Homo sapiens: one gene and its partners. The protein of the gene in region 4 purifies or fractionates together with the protein of the main gene of each other region. This does not show direct contact. Each region holds a gene or a part of one and is shown on either strand. Other genes may lie near its edges.

Region 1 (3,500 bases), on a different chromosome or scaffold from region 4:
ATTTCATTAAAGATGCAAGCATGTAAAGGGTTTTTTAGTTTGTTTTGTTTTTCCACTTTTTTTTTGTGTCTCTCTTCCTACAAATAGGGAAATATGGTCAAGGAATAGGAATGGTTTCTTTTTTCTTTTTCTTTTTTTTTTTTTTTTGAGGGCTGGGACTGTTGTGGGATAATGTGGAAAACCACTGTTGCCAAAGTAGAAATCCCCTGCCCTTGAGGGAAATACACTGTTCTTGAAGTGAAAATGGTAGGGAAAAAAATAGCTGGGCTGTTCAGTGTGTCTGAGAAGGCTTTTAGTTACTGTATGGTGACGTGGCTGGTGTGATTAAAGAAAGGGCTTTCTGCTTTAAAAAGCTTGGAACCTAAAAATGGGCCTCTCTGTGGCTTGGGACTTTTCCAGCCATCCTGTGGTAGAGTCCAGCCTGCCCAGTATCCTCATCAAAGCCAGGCCAAGTTCACAAGCACGCCCAGGCCAGTCAAAAGGTCTGAGGAAGACCTCAGAAATGTTTTAGACAGGAGGAGTAAACTCAGAATAAGGGGCTCATTCTTCTACCCCTCAGTCATTAAGACCCTTTCTTTCATGCAGCACCACTACTTCAAGTCTGGATTGAGGAGGGATTGCACGCACATGTGTGAGGTTGGAGTCTCAATCTCAATGTGATTGTCATTGCCATGTTCAAACGATGAGGCTTAGAATGTCCCTTGTCTTACCTGATGGTCATAGCTCTCTATGACCCTCTGCTTCTTCCCAGCTGTGTCCTGGTGCTCTTTTGCTGTCAGAAGTGCTTGAGCAGACCTCTTGCTGCTGTGGACACCCTAAAAAGCTCCGCACCCCCTCAAGTCTACTAAGGCATGGTGGCTCTCTTCTAGGACAAGACTGTTGGGTGGTGGCTGAGCATTCGCCTGTCTTTGAGCGTCTGCATTTGCTCTCCCCCACCCCTTCCTCTCTTCCTTCTTTGTTTGTAAATAAAGTTGGTTAGAACACAGCCATGCGCATTCCATTCTGTTTCAGAGAAGTTAGCCTTCCCTCCTTCACAGGAGGGCCCAAACCCACTGTTACTCTCATTCTTTATAACACTCAAGCTACTTAGCATCAAGTATTTGTTGTATGAGCTGATCATGTGTCTCTCCCACTTACAATGTAAGTTCTGAAAGAGGAGGGACTTTGGTCTGTTTTGTTCCCCACTGTGCCCCAGAGCTTAGTACCTTTTGCCTGGCACATAGTAAGAGCCATGAATGAATAGCAGCAGCCCCTGGTGAAACTCTGTGATGCTCTGTGTGGTACAGTTACAGCTGGGACTCATTTGAAAATCACAGTAATGTTTTTAGTGAAGCAGGAAATGAGAAGAAATTCCCTATGGGCTCTGCATCTAAGAGGCTCCAAGTAGCTCTTATGCATGATCCTAACATGGGAACCATTGTTTATTCTGGAAGGTAGTTAGTGTTTCTGTTGGGCGGATGGAACACATTGTGTTCCTTACTGATGTGTGACCTTGAACAAGTCACCGATCATCTTAAAGCTTACTTCCTCTTTTGTAAAACAGACAATATAATATCATTTAACCTCATAGGCTTGTTGTAAGGATTACAAATGACAAAGTTTATTAAGGCACTTAGATTAATTTAGATTATTCTTGTTCTTTTTTTTTGGTGTTGTTTTTGTTTTATTTTGTTTTGTTTTGTTTTGGAGATAGAGTCTTGCTCTGTCACCAAGGCTGAAGTACAGTAGTGTGATCAGGCTCTAGCAACCTCCCCCTCCCAGACTCAAGCCTTATGCCCACCTCAGCCTCCAGAGTAGCTGGGACTATAGGCATGTGCCACCACACTAGGCTAATTTAAAACAAAAGTTTTTTTCTGAAGATGGAGTCTCACTGTATTGCCCAGGCTGGTCTCAAACTCCTGGCCTCAAGTGATCCTCCCATCTCAGCCTCCAGAGTAGCTGGGACTATAGGCATGTGCCACCACACTAGGCTAATTTAAAACAAAAGTTTTTTTTCTAAAGATGGAATCTCACTGTATTGCCCAGGCTGGTCTCAAACTCCTGGCCTCAAGCGATCCTCCCACCTCAGCCTTCCAAAGTGCTGGGATTACAGGTGTGAGCCACTGTGCCCAACCAGCGCTTAATTAAAATGCATTCATTCCTATTAGTAATCACTAACTCTGGCTTGAATGTACCTGCATCTGTTACCACCCAGGCATAACTGTTCATGTAGATCTGACGTTGTTCATTTGTTTGAACACAGGGCTTCAGCAACCTGTTTATGTAGCTATTCTTAGCATTTACAGGGGTAGAGCCTGACCAGACATGAGAGGAAATATGCTCTGTTTCAGAAGAGGTCAGGCTTGCCACCACCCTACTAAACTAGGAGATGTGGTTGTCATTGCCCTGTTCAAAAGATACAGTTTTCTTCTGTGGGCTGTAAGATAAGCTGGGTATGGCCAAGTTCACCTTTGGATCTAACCAGGGCATTGGTGGTGGTGGTGTTTCTGGCATGGTACAGCAAGCAGGAAGCAGTAGTGTGCGAGGCCACCCTTTCCAAGAAGGTGCGGGCCCTGGCATCAGGTGGGGGACAATGGATAACAATAGGCTTGACCTCTCAGCACTTCTCTGATTCCTTATCTTTTCTATAAAAAAGGCTAAAATTCTTGGTTCCTATTCCCTGCAGCTGGCTACATGTTAGGAAAATTCAAAGAATAGCTTAAGAACTCTATTCAGGTTCCATAAAGCACTTAATATCATCAACAGGCCTAGAAAGGATCTTTTACCAGATTTCGATGCATGGAAACTTCCTCAATAGTAATGACACCCTCTGCAACACCTTAGGAAAAACATTCGCTTCTGGGCACAAGTTCTGGTGAAAGCTTAAATCTGTAGTTCTAACCCAGAAGAGAAGGCTAGTCAGTGTTGCTGAGCATCTGAGCTGCTCTTTGACTTTGGTGATAATTGTTTTATGCCCTTTTCTGTCCAGAATCTGCTGACTGGGACAACTGCAGGGTGGAAGCCACCTTTTTGTCAGTTCAGGAGCAGGCAAATTATCTAACATGTGGCTTTAAAATTCAAATGAGATAAGGCAGTAAGGGTCACTAAGATGTTTCTGGTGGGTATTGCCTTACATGACTTTAGGGTACTGGTGGCACTATCTTTGATTCTTAAGAGTACAATTCATTGTACTATGTATATATATTTAAAATAACACTTAATGCCTTTGTGACTTTGAAAATAATGTGAATTTTTATGTAAAATTAAAGCATATGAGGAAGTATGGAGAAGAATAAAGAATAAATACACTCTTTACCTCTAAATGCAGATCTTACCAGATAAAATTGATTTCCCTTTAGTTCTTTAAAAAAAAAAAGTGATACGTACATGTGTGTATATGTGTATATATGTACATGAATATATGCTTTTTTAAAAATTAAGATACTGCATTTCCTTATGCCATTAGGTTTTTTTTTTTTTTTTTTTTTTGAGATGGAGTTTCACTCTTGTTGCCCAGGCTG
Region 2 (3,500 bases), on a different chromosome or scaffold from region 4:
ACGGTTCCAGCCTGGAGCATGGAGCTGTGTGGGCACCCTGCTTCCTGACGCTGACCGTCCTTCTGCAGGGGGTCCACTGGACGGGGCCTGAGCTACAACTTCACCCACCTGGACGGGTACCTGGACCTTCTCAGGGAGAACCAGCTCCTCCCAGGTGAGCTGTGGGCTCTGCCCTCCCAGCCCGCCTGCACCCCCTTGCCCTGCCCACCCTCTCCCTCACCCAGCCCCTCTGAGTCCTTGGATGTCCATTCAGGGCTGGCCTTGGTGCCGGAGCACAGGCCTGGCAGAGCATGGGTGTGGTGTGTGGTGGGCGGTGGGGCAGCCCTCCTGTGTTCCAGGGTTTGAGCTGATGGGCAGCGCCTCGGGCCACTTCACTGACTTTGAGGACAAGCAGCAGGTGTTTGAGTGGAAGGACTTGGTCTCCAGCCTGGCCAGGAGATACATCGGTGGGCGAGCGCAGGCCCTGGGGCCCTGGCCGGGGCGGGGGTACTCCTGGGCAGGTTGCACCCCTATCACGCAGGCTGCTGCCTGGTCAGGAGATACATTGGTGGGCAGGCGCAGGCCCTTGTGGGGGGATGGGGGTGACAAGGGATAGGTTGGTGGTCGGCGCAGGCCCTGGGGCCCCAGGCTGGGGGGTACTCCTGGGCTTGGTGGGTGGGCGAAGGCCCTGGGCCCCTGGGGTGGGGGGTACTCCTGGGCAGGCTGCACCCCTATCACCCAGGCCGCACCCCTATCACCCAGGCCGCCGCCCAGGTCTTGGACCCCCTTGAGCCAGCGCTTCCTGATGTGGGGCGGGAGGCTGGCCTGCATGGAGATGGGGTTCATCTTGAGTCAGACGCCCTTCATCACCTTGCACCCTCCCTCCGTGGGAGTCACTGAGGCGAGATTCACCTGTGCTGGGGGGACAGCAAGGCTCCTCTGCAGGTAGGTACGGACTGGCGCATGTTTCCAAGTGGAACTTCGAGACGTGGAATGAGCCAGACCACCACGACTTTGACAACGTCTCCATGACCATGCAAGGTGTGCACCGCTTCCTGGGGTCCTGCCCGGCTGAAAGGGGGCAGAGGAAGGCAGGAGCAGAGGCTAAGCCGCTCATCCCCAGGGCAGGTGTAGACGCAGTGCTCCCCCGGCCCAGGCTTCCTGAACTACTACGATGCCTGCTCGGAGGGTCTGCGCGCCGCCAGCCCCGCCCTGCGGCTGGGAGGCCCCGGCGACTCCTTCCACACCCCACCGCGATCCCCGCTGAGCTGGGGCCTCCTGCGCCACTGCCACGACGGTACCAACTTCTTCACTGGGGAGGCGGGCGTGCGGCTGGACTACATCTCCCTCCACAGGAAGGTGCGCCCTGCCCCTCCGTCCGCCCCGGTGTTCTGCGCCCTCAGCCGCTGTGCCCCGGGCCGCGCTGACCCTGGTGGTGCTGAGGCGGCCCCGCCCGCAGGGTGCGCGCAGCTCCATCTCCATCCTGGAGCAGGAGAAGGTCGTCGCGCAGCAGATCCGGCAGCTCTTCCCCAAGTTCGCGGACACCCCCATTTACAACGACGAGGCGGACCCGCTGGTGGGCTGGTCCCTGCCACAGCCGTGGAGGGCGGACGTGACCTACGCGGCCATGGTGGTGAAGGTGGGCCGGCCCAACGCCCTGCGCGCCCCCCGGCCACCTTCCTCCCGAGACGGGACAGGCGAGCGGTGGCCGCGCCACCCGGTCCCAGCTGCCCTGGACACCCGCAGGTCATCGCGCAGCATCAGAACCTGCTACTGGCCAACACCACCTCCGCCTTCCCCTACGCGCTCCTGAGCAACGACAATGCCTTCCTGAGCTACCACCCGCACCCCTTCGCGCAGCGCACGCTCACCGCGCGCTTCCAGGTCAACAACACCCGCCCGCCGCACGTGCAGCTGTTGCGCAAGCCGGTGCTCACGGCCATGGGGCTGCTGGCGCTGCTGGGTGAGCCGGGGCCGCTGGGGTGGGCCGGCCAGGGCCCTCCAGGCTGGGGAGCGGCTCCTGCGAAGGCCCCGCTGCGGGGAGCGCACTTCCTCCAGCCGCGCGCTTCCCGGGGTCGGCCTCCGCGTGGCGGGGCCTGGGGACTCCTTCACCAAGGGGAGGGGGAGCGAGTGGTGGGAGGCCCGGCCCTGGGTCGGGGGGCGGCTGGGCAACGACCCCACGCGGCGACGGCCCCCCCCCGCCCCGCAGATGAGGAGCAGCTCTGGGCCGAAGTGTCGCAGGCCGGGACCGTCCTGGACAGCAACCACACGGTGGGCGTCCTGGCCAGCGCCCACCGCCCCCAGGGCCCGGCCGACGCCTGGCGCGCCGCGGTGCTGATCTACGCGAGCGACGACACCCGCGCCCACCCCAACCGCAGCGTCGCGGTGACCCTGCGGCTGCGCGGGGTGCCCCCCGGCCCGGGTAAGCCGGGGTTCCAGGGAGGTCTCTGGCCCCGCTGGGGCTCTGGAGGGGGCGGCCCGGGGAGCCGAGGCCTGAGTGTCAGGCCCCGCAGGCCTGGTCTACGTCACGCGCTACCTGGACAACGGGCTCTGCAGCCCCGACGGCGAGTGGCGGCGCCTGGGCCGGCCCGTCTTCCCCACGGCAGAGCAGTTCCGGCGCATGCGCGCGGCTGAGGTAGGTGGGCCGCGGAGGGGCGAGGGGCCGGGCCGGGCCGGGGTCCCGGGGGGGTGGGGTCCGGGGCGGGGGCTCCGAGGCGGTGTGGGTGGGAGGTGGAGCGGTGGGCCGGGGGCGTTCGCCCTGAGGTCGGGCCGAGCGTCCCCAGCTCCCCTGGAGAACCCTGAGGACCGGCCACTGCGCCCAGGACCCGGTGGCCGCGGCGCCCCGCCCCTTACCCGCCGGCGGCCGCCTGACCCTGCGCCCCGCGCTGCGGCTGCCGTCGCTTTTGCTGGTGCACGTGTGTGCGCGCCCCGAGAAGCCGCCCGGGCAGGCAAGTGGCAGTCCCCTAACCCGCGCCGCGGCCCGGACTCCCCTTCCCCGACGCCATCACAGCCCTTCCCTCCCCCAGGTCACGCGGCTCCGCGCCCTGCCCCTGACCCAAGGGCAGCTGGTTCTGGTCTGGTCGGATGAACACGTGGGCTCCAAGTGCGTGAGTGGGGCCGCCCCTCCCTCTGCCTGGTCCTAGGCAGGTCCCTGGGTCCCGACCCCTTCACCCATGCGGTCACTCGGGCCACTTGCCGTGGCCCATCGGCTCCCTCCCTCGCCGCCCTGCGTCCCTGCCCTTCACCCCACACACTGTGGGCCACGCGCCAGGCCCTGCCAGTGGGGTGTGGGTTCTCCTAGGGGACATGAGATGGACATTCGGGCTCCAGCCCTCTCCTGCCTGGGCAGGAAGAGTGCCCAGGGGCTGGGGAGGTGCCGCCGAGGGGCTTGAGGGAATGAGGCTGTGGGTCCACGCGGCCGTGCCCTGCCTGCTCCCACCTTTGAGGACTGTCTTGACCCCAGCCTTGTTCTTGGCCTGACCTCCCCAGGTGCCTGTGGACATACGAGATCCAGTTCTCTC
Region 3 (3,500 bases), on a different chromosome or scaffold from region 4:
ATTCCATTATTACTACTTTCACTGTTACTATTTCCATAATGTTACTATTCCATTATCATTTACTTTTGCCCAGGGTCTTGGTCCTCTCTTATTCCAAGCCTCTGGAGTGATTTTCAAACTGAATGCCTATGGGATAAATGTTCTGCCCTCAAAGCTCCCCACTTGGGGCTCCAACCTTACAGGTGTGGGTCTGCCTGGGTTCCTTGCTCCCAGCCACCGCCCTCTTCTCCATCATCCCCACCCCAACTTCTCTCATGCTGATTTCATGAAGCTCTCTCCTTGCTGTTTTTTCTTTCTGCTTGAAGCACAGCTCACCGTCACAGGTCATGGCTGTACAGACCCAATTTCCACAGGCACAGACACAGCGGTTACAGTCCACCTCGGTCTCAGCTCCATCTGCATACGTTTCATCCTCCAGGGCACACTCTGTTGGGCCAGAAATACGGGGCAACAGTTTAGCTGTGAGGGTGGAACAGGGCATCTTTGCTACAGTCTGTGCACCTTACCCTTTTTTCCCAGACAAGACCTGCCTGTCCCTCAGAAGCACTATATCTGAGCAAACACTACCATCAACCTAAAGAATGTGGGGCCCTAACTTCACCATGGGGAGAATGGGCTGGGGCCCAGTTTAGAATCATGGAAGGGGATTTTCTCAGCTAGCTCTGGAGAGTTCCACCAATCCTCTCTATCTTGGCTCCTACAAAATGCCTCCATTCACTACAGCTCTCTATTTCTTAGGTTAGGCATACTCTTCTCAGGAGGGTTGAAAGATGGGTTGAGGCACTTGAGAAACTCTTGGAAGCTGAGTTTCCAATCAGCATTTTCATCAGACAGTTCAATGAGAGCATCAACACAGAGTCCCCTGAAACAAAACACAGGAGAAATGTGTTAGCAAGACCTCAGCTTCGCTCAGAAGAAAGGAAGTAAGCATCAGGACCACATACACCCAGGGCCTCCACAGGAGGCCAAGAAGATGACTGCTAACTAAAACAGCCTCTCTCTACACTGACCCAACACAACTATTATCCATCCTGACCAATGCAGGCATCTAACCTTTAGTTTGTTATATGAATGTCAGATCACCCAGGCTGTCCAAATGTTCCCCCCCTTAAGATGACTAAAGTTTCGTGAATGGTTTTGTCTAATGTTTTCACTGCCTGCATACCTTCCACTAGCAATTGCTTTTCCCCATGGTATATACACGTCAAGTCAACCAAACTAGGAAAATCAAAACAGAAGAGATATGACAGATGACATGAAAGGAATATAGGATTTGAAAGAATATGAAGTTCAAGCAAGAATCACCATTATCATCCTTCTAGAAAGAGATTTTCAGAAAAGCTTTTAGAACTCAGCTCCATCAGCTTGCAGTGAGCCGAGATCCCGCCACTGCACTCCAGCCTGGGCGACAGAGCGAGACTCCGTCTCAAAAAAAAAAAAAAAAAAAAAAAACAAAAACAAAACAAAACAAAAACAAAAACAAAAAAAAACAAAAAACAAAACAAACAAAAAAAAACTCAGCTCCATCACTTCTTTCTTGGGCTGTATTTGAGCCCTGGCTCAATCACTTACTACTCAAATGGACTTGAGTTAGTTATTCAACTTTTCTGAGCCTGTCTTCCCATCCGTAAAAGGAGGACAAGAAGCCCTCCTTCACTGGGATATCATGAGGCTCAAACGTTGAAATTATAAAACATATAATTTCAGATTATCAAAATATGAAGGATTTACAGAACCTATACTTTAAGGTCATAGACTATTATTAAAGAAGAATCCTTCTAGAAACTGTGCAATGCACTTCTTTTGAAAAAAAGACATGCTTTTCCTATTTTTAATTCTTACCGATGTGCTGAAACCACATCAAAAGTTTCTTAGCGATTAGTTTTTATTAATATTGATTCTGGAATAATGCCATAAAAGTAGACGGGCATATATCTGTAACAGTTAGGGCAATTGACATGAAATAGCACTAATTATCTAAAAATCAGAACAAAGCTATTTTAGACCTATAGTTAAATAATACATTACTGTAATTCCTTCAGAAAATTAATCAGTAAAACATCACCCACAACATTCAGAAATAACTTGCTCTGACGTGCCCTTGGCAATTTATTTTAAAATTATATTCTTCTAGTCCTTGCAAGTTCTGACCAAAAACAATAACTATTTGATTAGATATCAGTGGTACTCAATATATTAATTCATACTTTCATAGAATAGAACAGGACAGAATTCCCATTTTGCTTTTTACGTGACATTCTCTCACTGGTGGCTCTTTTGCAGGTGGGAAAGGGTTTAAGTCCCCTCTCTCAGTTAGTCTTCCCTTGTGGATCATTCTCTGACCTCTCGGTTCCTCTCACCTAAGCAACTTGTTGTTCTCCTGGTCTGGATACGTTGTAATATTGATGGCAGTTTCATTCTGTTCCACAAACTTCAGGAATTCACTGGAGTCCAGGCGAGAATCACCATTATCAAAGTTCTAGAAAGGGCATGACAAGATCGTTCAGGGATGTTTTGCAGAACCCCTGTTCCATCATTACTCCACTCAGCTGACCTGCCTCTGATTCATCTTGTTCTTGATACATTCCAACCCTGCCCTGACCTCAGAGGGCCTTGGCAACAAATGCTCTAATCCCTGGGACATGCAGAGAAGGTACCTGTGCCCACAATGAGAGAGGAAAAGTGCCTGGGCAGAGGAGGCAACCTGAACTGAGGCCTCTGGGGTCCCTAAGCATGCTGTGTGGCCCCATCTCTGACACTGCCCTGTAGACACTTTTGACTATACCTTTGGGTTCAGACCAACCTGCACATCATGTTCTCAAGCCCTGATGAACATGTAACAAGAGTTTAAAGTTGCACGCTGTGAATCAGAATCTCTGTAGCAGGTCCCAGAATATGTTTCTAATGAGCTGCTCAGGAACAGCAGCAATGCAGATGACCCTCTGAGCTCACTTTGGAATTATAGGATTCCAAATCTTGTTGCTTGATTCCAGCCTCCTTGTCCTGTTCTCAGTGCTTAACTTTCACTTTGGTGCCCGTAACTGATCACATCAGTGAGAACTCAGGCAAAGGCCTCAAAGCAATAAGCTACAGACAGGGGTCATCATGCAAAGTTCCCGCTCCTCTGCCCTGTGGGCCCCACTGCAGATGTGTGCACAGGTCCTCAGATCATCCAGCTCAGGCTGCCCTCATGACCCAGCTGGCATCCCACAAGCACAAAGTGAGGAGTGCAGTAAGCTCACACACTGTTCTCTATGGCAAGATGCTAAACTGAGACCTCAGCCATCTGGGACCATTCAAGACACCCAGGCACTAGCTGCAGGAGGAGGGTGTCAAATCAAGACTGATCAAATTCCAAGTTGCATATGGCTGCTCTCCTAACAAATTTCAATAACATTTTCCCCCTTCCTCCCAAATCCTTTCCCTAGGCTCCCTCATGCTGCTGCCCTGGGAAAGGATCAGCTTCCCCATGTTACTTTCAAGATGGCTCCCCAGATGGT
Region 4 (4,988 bases):
CTTGAGATCAGGAGTTTAAGACCAGCCTGGCCAATATGGTGAAACCCCGTCTCTACTAAAAATACAAAACTTAGCTGGGCTTGGTGGCGGGCGCCTGTAATCCCAGCTACTTGAGAGGCTGAGGCACGAGAATCGCTTGAACCTGGGAGGCGGAGGTTGCAGTGAGCCAAGATCATGCCACTGCACTCCAGGCTGGGTGGTAGAGCAAGACTCAGTCTCACAAAAAAAAAAAAAAAGCCTGCGACAGGCTGACTGTGTGCCACATTCCTCTTCAGACACCTGACCTTAGGTGTGGCGCCCACTTGACATCACCTCCTTAAGCACCCTGTACTCCCTCAACAGACTCAGGTGCCAGGTCTTCAACACGCTTAGATTAGACTTCACCCCAGAGCTCCTGCGCTAGACCCTGCCTCTCTGTCATTGATAAATGGTATCATTACACAGCCCAGGCCCTCCTCCTGGACTCCTATTGCCAGATTAAATGAACTATACATTTCAAATGCTCCATGTGGCCCTTGGGGCACTTGATCCCCTGGTTCCCCTCTTTGTCTGCTGTCCCTGATCACCCCTTGTCACCGGGTCAGCTTTGTCCTGTGGACCCTCCCCCTTCAATGACCTCTCTTCCTGCTCAGGTGATGTGTAGGAAGCCCAGCCCCCAGGACTCTCACGACACTCACAGCCCTCCACACCTCCGAGTCCACGGGCCCCTCAGCAGCACCCCAGCCTTTGCCAGGTATTTCCGCTGTGCACGTGGTGCTCTCTTGAACCCCTCCAGCCGCTGCCAGCTCTGGTAACTTGGTTACCAAAGATGCCACAGCACAGAAATATCGACCAACACCTCCCTGGTCACATCCATGGAATCAGAGCAAGATTTCCTTTCTGCTTCTGTTCCAAAAATAAAAGCTGGCACTTGGCTTCCGCTTGTCTCTTAATGACTTGTTCCTGCTATGTTCTATGCCTGGAAGTCATTAACTGTACGGGAGAAAAATACCCTGAAGTTAGAAAAGATAAGAGGGAGAAATGCCAAAAATGTTTCATGGACACAAGAAAAGGAAAGAATCAACAATTGGTGACCTGGTGGGTTTGAAGGCCACCCAGTGGACCAAAGATTGGACAATAAAGCAGTCTAGTTGGAGACGAGAAGGGCTTGGATTAAGTATCGGAAAGCTGCTCCCAATTGTTCTCAGGATTTTATCGTTATTTTATTGTCATTGCCTCCTGCCTCTAATCTGCTGTCCTGAACAAAACCAGGAGAGGTGTGGGAGAGAAGGATGTGGGTCTGCTGTCTCTGGCCCTGGGAGATGAAACTCCGAACCTGGAGAGGCAGTCAGTTAGCACTGATGGCAACTGGTATCTCTGCTGCTGAACCTTGAGATACAGTGATGGTGATCAGAGGCAGAGAGCCATGCCTGCATCTCCTTTGGGAGTTGTGACCTGGAGCCCAGGAGGGAGGGAGGGTCAGTGAGTGAGCATGAAGCAGAGTTGGATATTTGGGAATGTCCGCCTCAATGGCCCTCCTGAGAAAACCATGACACTGGCCAGACTAAAGCAGAAGCTGAGGTGGAAAGAGTGCTTGTGAACAGCTGCCGTCTTGGACGACTGGTCTTCTTCCTGCTGGGCCATGTCCACCACCTGCCACATCTCACCCACTGAGGAGGCCACAAAGTGCTCTTCGAACTGTTCTTGATTCTGGTCTGGAACAGGGGAAAAGGACAAGGACTGAGCCCTGACCCTGGCCTGAACCAGAAAGGAGAAGTTAGAATAGGAAAAACACGTTGAAGCCTAGGGCTGCAGTCCCAATTGCCCATATCCTTAGCCTTCACCAGAGAGGGGATGCTCTTTCTAGAGGTTTTTTCTGGTCTGTGTTCAATCACAGCCCCAACTCAAACACACACACACACACACACACACACACACACACACACACACACACACACACCATTCCTAAGGTTAGCTGCCTCCTCTAGGGTTTCAACACTGGGGGAGTCAGGGGCCACCTTGAAGCATGACAAAAGCCAGCCAAATGCACCATGCTTACACACACAGAAGTTGCATGCAAGCTCAGCTGGCCCATGGTGAGCCGACACTATTATTTCACATGATAACCATCAGTGGCTGGAGTTACCCCCCATAAACCAGACCTATGTCAGGTCTCACCCTAGCCTCATCAGTGACCTGGGGCCTGGCCTCACACAGACCTCACCCTGAGCCTCCAGACTCTCCCGTCTTTTTTTCTACCTACCTGAAGAGGGTGTTTTCTCTGTATGGCTCCTGTCTTTTTTTCCACCTACCTGCAGAGGGCGTTTTCTCTGTCTGGCTCCCATCTTTGGGGCCTGGGCTCCCGTTCAGAGGCTTCACCTGCAGCAGCAGCAAGATAGGAACCAGGAACACTGCCCTGCAGAGCTGGGGGGCCAGGGGAGGCATGGACCTGCCCACCCACTGCCTTTGGCCGCCCCCTGCTCCCAGTGCCCAGCAGGATCCGTGCACCTCCTGCCCCATTCCTGTCCTGGCCCTTAACCCTTTCCAGGGGCATTTTCTCCCCTCACCTTCCATAGGACCTCTGACTTCACATGTTCTGTGACATCACAGCCATGGGCCTGAACTTCATTCCGGCTCACTAGAGCGTTCCAATGGCGAGGCACAAGAATGGAGCACAGCCAGCAGGGATGGCCGAGGCTTCCAAGATGACCACAGTGGGTCATTCTGTATTTAGCAGAAATGACTTAACAGCTTGCAATGTACATTCATATCCATTACACCATTAGATCCACGTAGAAACCAGGACTGCAAAATCATAGTGTTCTCATATCTATTACATTCATGAGGAAACTGAGGCTCACAGAAAAAATGACTCTCTCACTCAAAATCGCCCAAATACTAAGGGGCAGAAAAGGACTCTTGATTAACTTTTACTTTTAAATATGATATCTTCCCACTATTCTATGTGGCCTTTCTGTAACAAGAGTGGTTTGCATAGGATGAGGCCCAGAACAGATGAGCCGGACAGGATTCTCAAGTCGTGGGTATGAACATGCTGCTCTACATGAAGCATGGGTCTGCCAGAAAATAAAGATGGGGAGGAGCATAGGGTAAGGATGGGTAAAAGCACATGCTGTGTGTGTGTATAAAAGACACAGAGACAGAGACAGGCATAGACAGGCAGAGACAGACAGAGACATAGAAAAAGAGAGAAAGAAAGAGACCGAGACAGGCAGAAACTGAGGGGTAGAGACAGAGAGATAGAGACGCAGAGACAGAGAGACAGATGAAGAGAGAGTGAACGGAGAGAGAGCGAGAGACAAAGAGCAGGGTGCCTTGCAGCTGGTAGAGCCCATTCACACCCTCTCTTCACCCTCCCCTGGTTTTCCCACTTTTCTAGCCTTTGTCCTCTTGTACCACCAGGTTGAAACACCCTCTTCTTTCATTTTACACCTTTCTGTACTCTTAGACGAAAGAAAAGGTTGTTAGAGGCTCATCTCCAACCTCATTGCTTGGCAAAAGGAGTTAGAGTCTGCAGAGAAGCCGCAGTGCGGCAGGGAGTCTAGGATCCCAAATAACAGATCTGGGAGAATCCTGCCTCAGTACTTGGATGCGCCTCCTGCCCATGAGCCTGGTGAGCACAGATCTGTTGGCAGTAACCGGCTGTGGGTAATCACCCCCAACTGCTTCTTGGGCAGAGATGGTTGGAGGGTTGTGAGTTAGGGAGACAGAATGAAGGCCTTTTTTCGAAAACCAGCAACAGAGACATAGGCCATTAGATGCAGGATGGCTGCTAAGACAGGTAAGAGAAGACTTTAGTCACTCCTGAACTCTCATAACCAGTTCACACTGCTCCTGCTCATCCATGCATACCAGACCTGAATGAAATACCACATGCAGGTCCAAGGACACTGCGGAGACAGGCACCCTTTCTGCAAGAGGGAACTGCAGACAGAAACACACAAAGAGATGCTTTCCCACAGAGTTTACTCGTGTTAGCAGACATGCCCACATGGATGCTGTCTCACATACAGCAGACACCATCTCTTACACACTTCCTGATGGTCCAAGCCAGATGACAAGGGACTAGGGAGTGGTACGGAGGTCGCTTGAAGGTGAGTAAGGAAAGATTCAAGTAGGCAGGTGACCCTGCTCACCCCACCTTGAACCCATTGACGTGAGATCCAAAGAATGATGCTTGAATGGAAAAAACCATCACTAATCTCCTCCCTCCTGGCTATTTTGGGGGAGCAGCCTCTTGGTTTCCTGGCAAAAAGAGAAGCCATCTCCAGCTCTGTGGGAATGAATGGGGAGGGCGGCTGGGGTGAGAATTGCCTCCCGGGCAGGCTTGAGTGGAAATAACTGAGTTGTTTCCATTACTTCCATTTCCTTGCCACCACCACCCGCCTGACCTCCGCAGTGTTAAAAGAGATAAATTCTTGCAGAAAACAGGGAATCCCTTAAATATTTTTTCTTATTACAAAGTAGAAAATATAGAAAAATACAAAACCCCAAAAAGGCTAATAATTCCACCATCCAGTGATAATCACTTTTTTTTTTTTGAGATGGAGTCTCACTCTTGTTGCCCAGACGGGAGGGCAATGGCACGATCTCAGCTCACCTACAACCTCCACCTCCTGGGTTCAAGTGATTCTCCTGTCTCAGCCTCCCGAGTAGCTGGAATTACAGGCATGTGCCACCACACCCAGCTAATTTTGTATTTTTAATAGAGAAAGGGTTTCTTTCTGTTGGTCAGGAAGGTCTCGAACTCCCTACCTCAGGTGATCTGCCCGCCTCGGCCTCCCAAAGTGCTGGGATTACCGGTGTGAGCCACTGCGCCTGGCCACAGTTAGTTTTAAGGTATGGTATTTGAATCCTTTTCTTTCTTTCTATTTTTTTTTTTTTGAGATGGAGTCTCTCATACTGTTGCCTGGGCTGGAGTGCAAAGGCGCAATTTCAGCTCACTGCAACCTCCACCTCCCGGGTTCAAGTGATTCTCCTGCCTCAGC

What was found.
Region 1: the proteins of LLCFC1 (region 4) and MGAT5 purify together in Homo sapiens (affinity purification with mass spectrometry; one large-scale study listed by BioGRID and IntAct). This does not show direct contact.
Region 2: the proteins of LLCFC1 (region 4) and IDUA purify together in Homo sapiens (affinity purification with mass spectrometry; one large-scale study listed by BioGRID and IntAct). This does not show direct contact.
Region 3: the proteins of LLCFC1 (region 4) and FSTL1 purify together in Homo sapiens (affinity purification with mass spectrometry; one large-scale study listed by BioGRID and IntAct). This does not show direct contact.

What each region holds. Positions count from the first base shown.
Region 1 is NC_000002.12:134,260,572-134,264,071, forward strand, and holds part of MGAT5 (alpha-1,6-mannosylglycoprotein 6-beta-N-acetylglucosaminyltransferase A), read left to right. Parts: intron 1-3,500. UniProt on the Homo sapiens protein: Catalyzes the addition of N-acetylglucosamine (GlcNAc) in beta 1-6 linkage to the alpha-linked mannose of biantennary N-linked oligosaccharides.
Region 2 is NC_000004.12:1,000,544-1,004,043, forward strand, and holds part of IDUA (alpha-L-iduronidase isoform a precursor), read left to right. Parts: intron 1-68; coding exon 69-154; intron 155-338; coding exon 339-446; intron 447-924; coding exon 925-1,020; intron 1,021-1,135; coding exon 1,136-1,338; intron 1,339-1,438; coding exon 1,439-1,618; intron 1,619-1,725; coding exon 1,726-1,942; intron 1,943-2,188; coding exon 2,189-2,401; intron 2,402-2,492; coding exon 2,493-2,614; coding exon of another isoform or gene 2,615-2,801; coding exon 2,802-2,927; intron 2,928-3,005; coding exon 3,006-3,082; exon of another isoform or gene 3,083-3,086; intron 3,087-3,468; coding exon 3,469-3,500.
Region 3 is NC_000003.12:120,402,493-120,405,992, forward strand, and holds part of FSTL1 (follistatin-related protein 1 precursor), read right to left. Parts: intron 2,480-3,500; coding exon 2,361-2,479; intron 863-2,360; coding exon 750-862; intron 427-749; coding exon 316-426; intron 1-315.
Region 4 is NC_000007.14:142,937,058-142,942,045, reverse strand, and holds LLCFC1 (sperm-egg fusion protein LLCFC1 precursor), read right to left. Parts: upstream 2,563-4,988; 5' UTR 2,425-2,562; coding exon 2,292-2,424; intron 1,695-2,291; coding exon 1,459-1,694; 3' UTR 1,178-1,458; downstream 1-1,177. Other genes in the region: KEL (kell blood group glycoprotein), read left to right, coding at 633-794. UniProt on the Homo sapiens protein: Sperm protein required for fusion of sperm with the egg membrane during fertilization.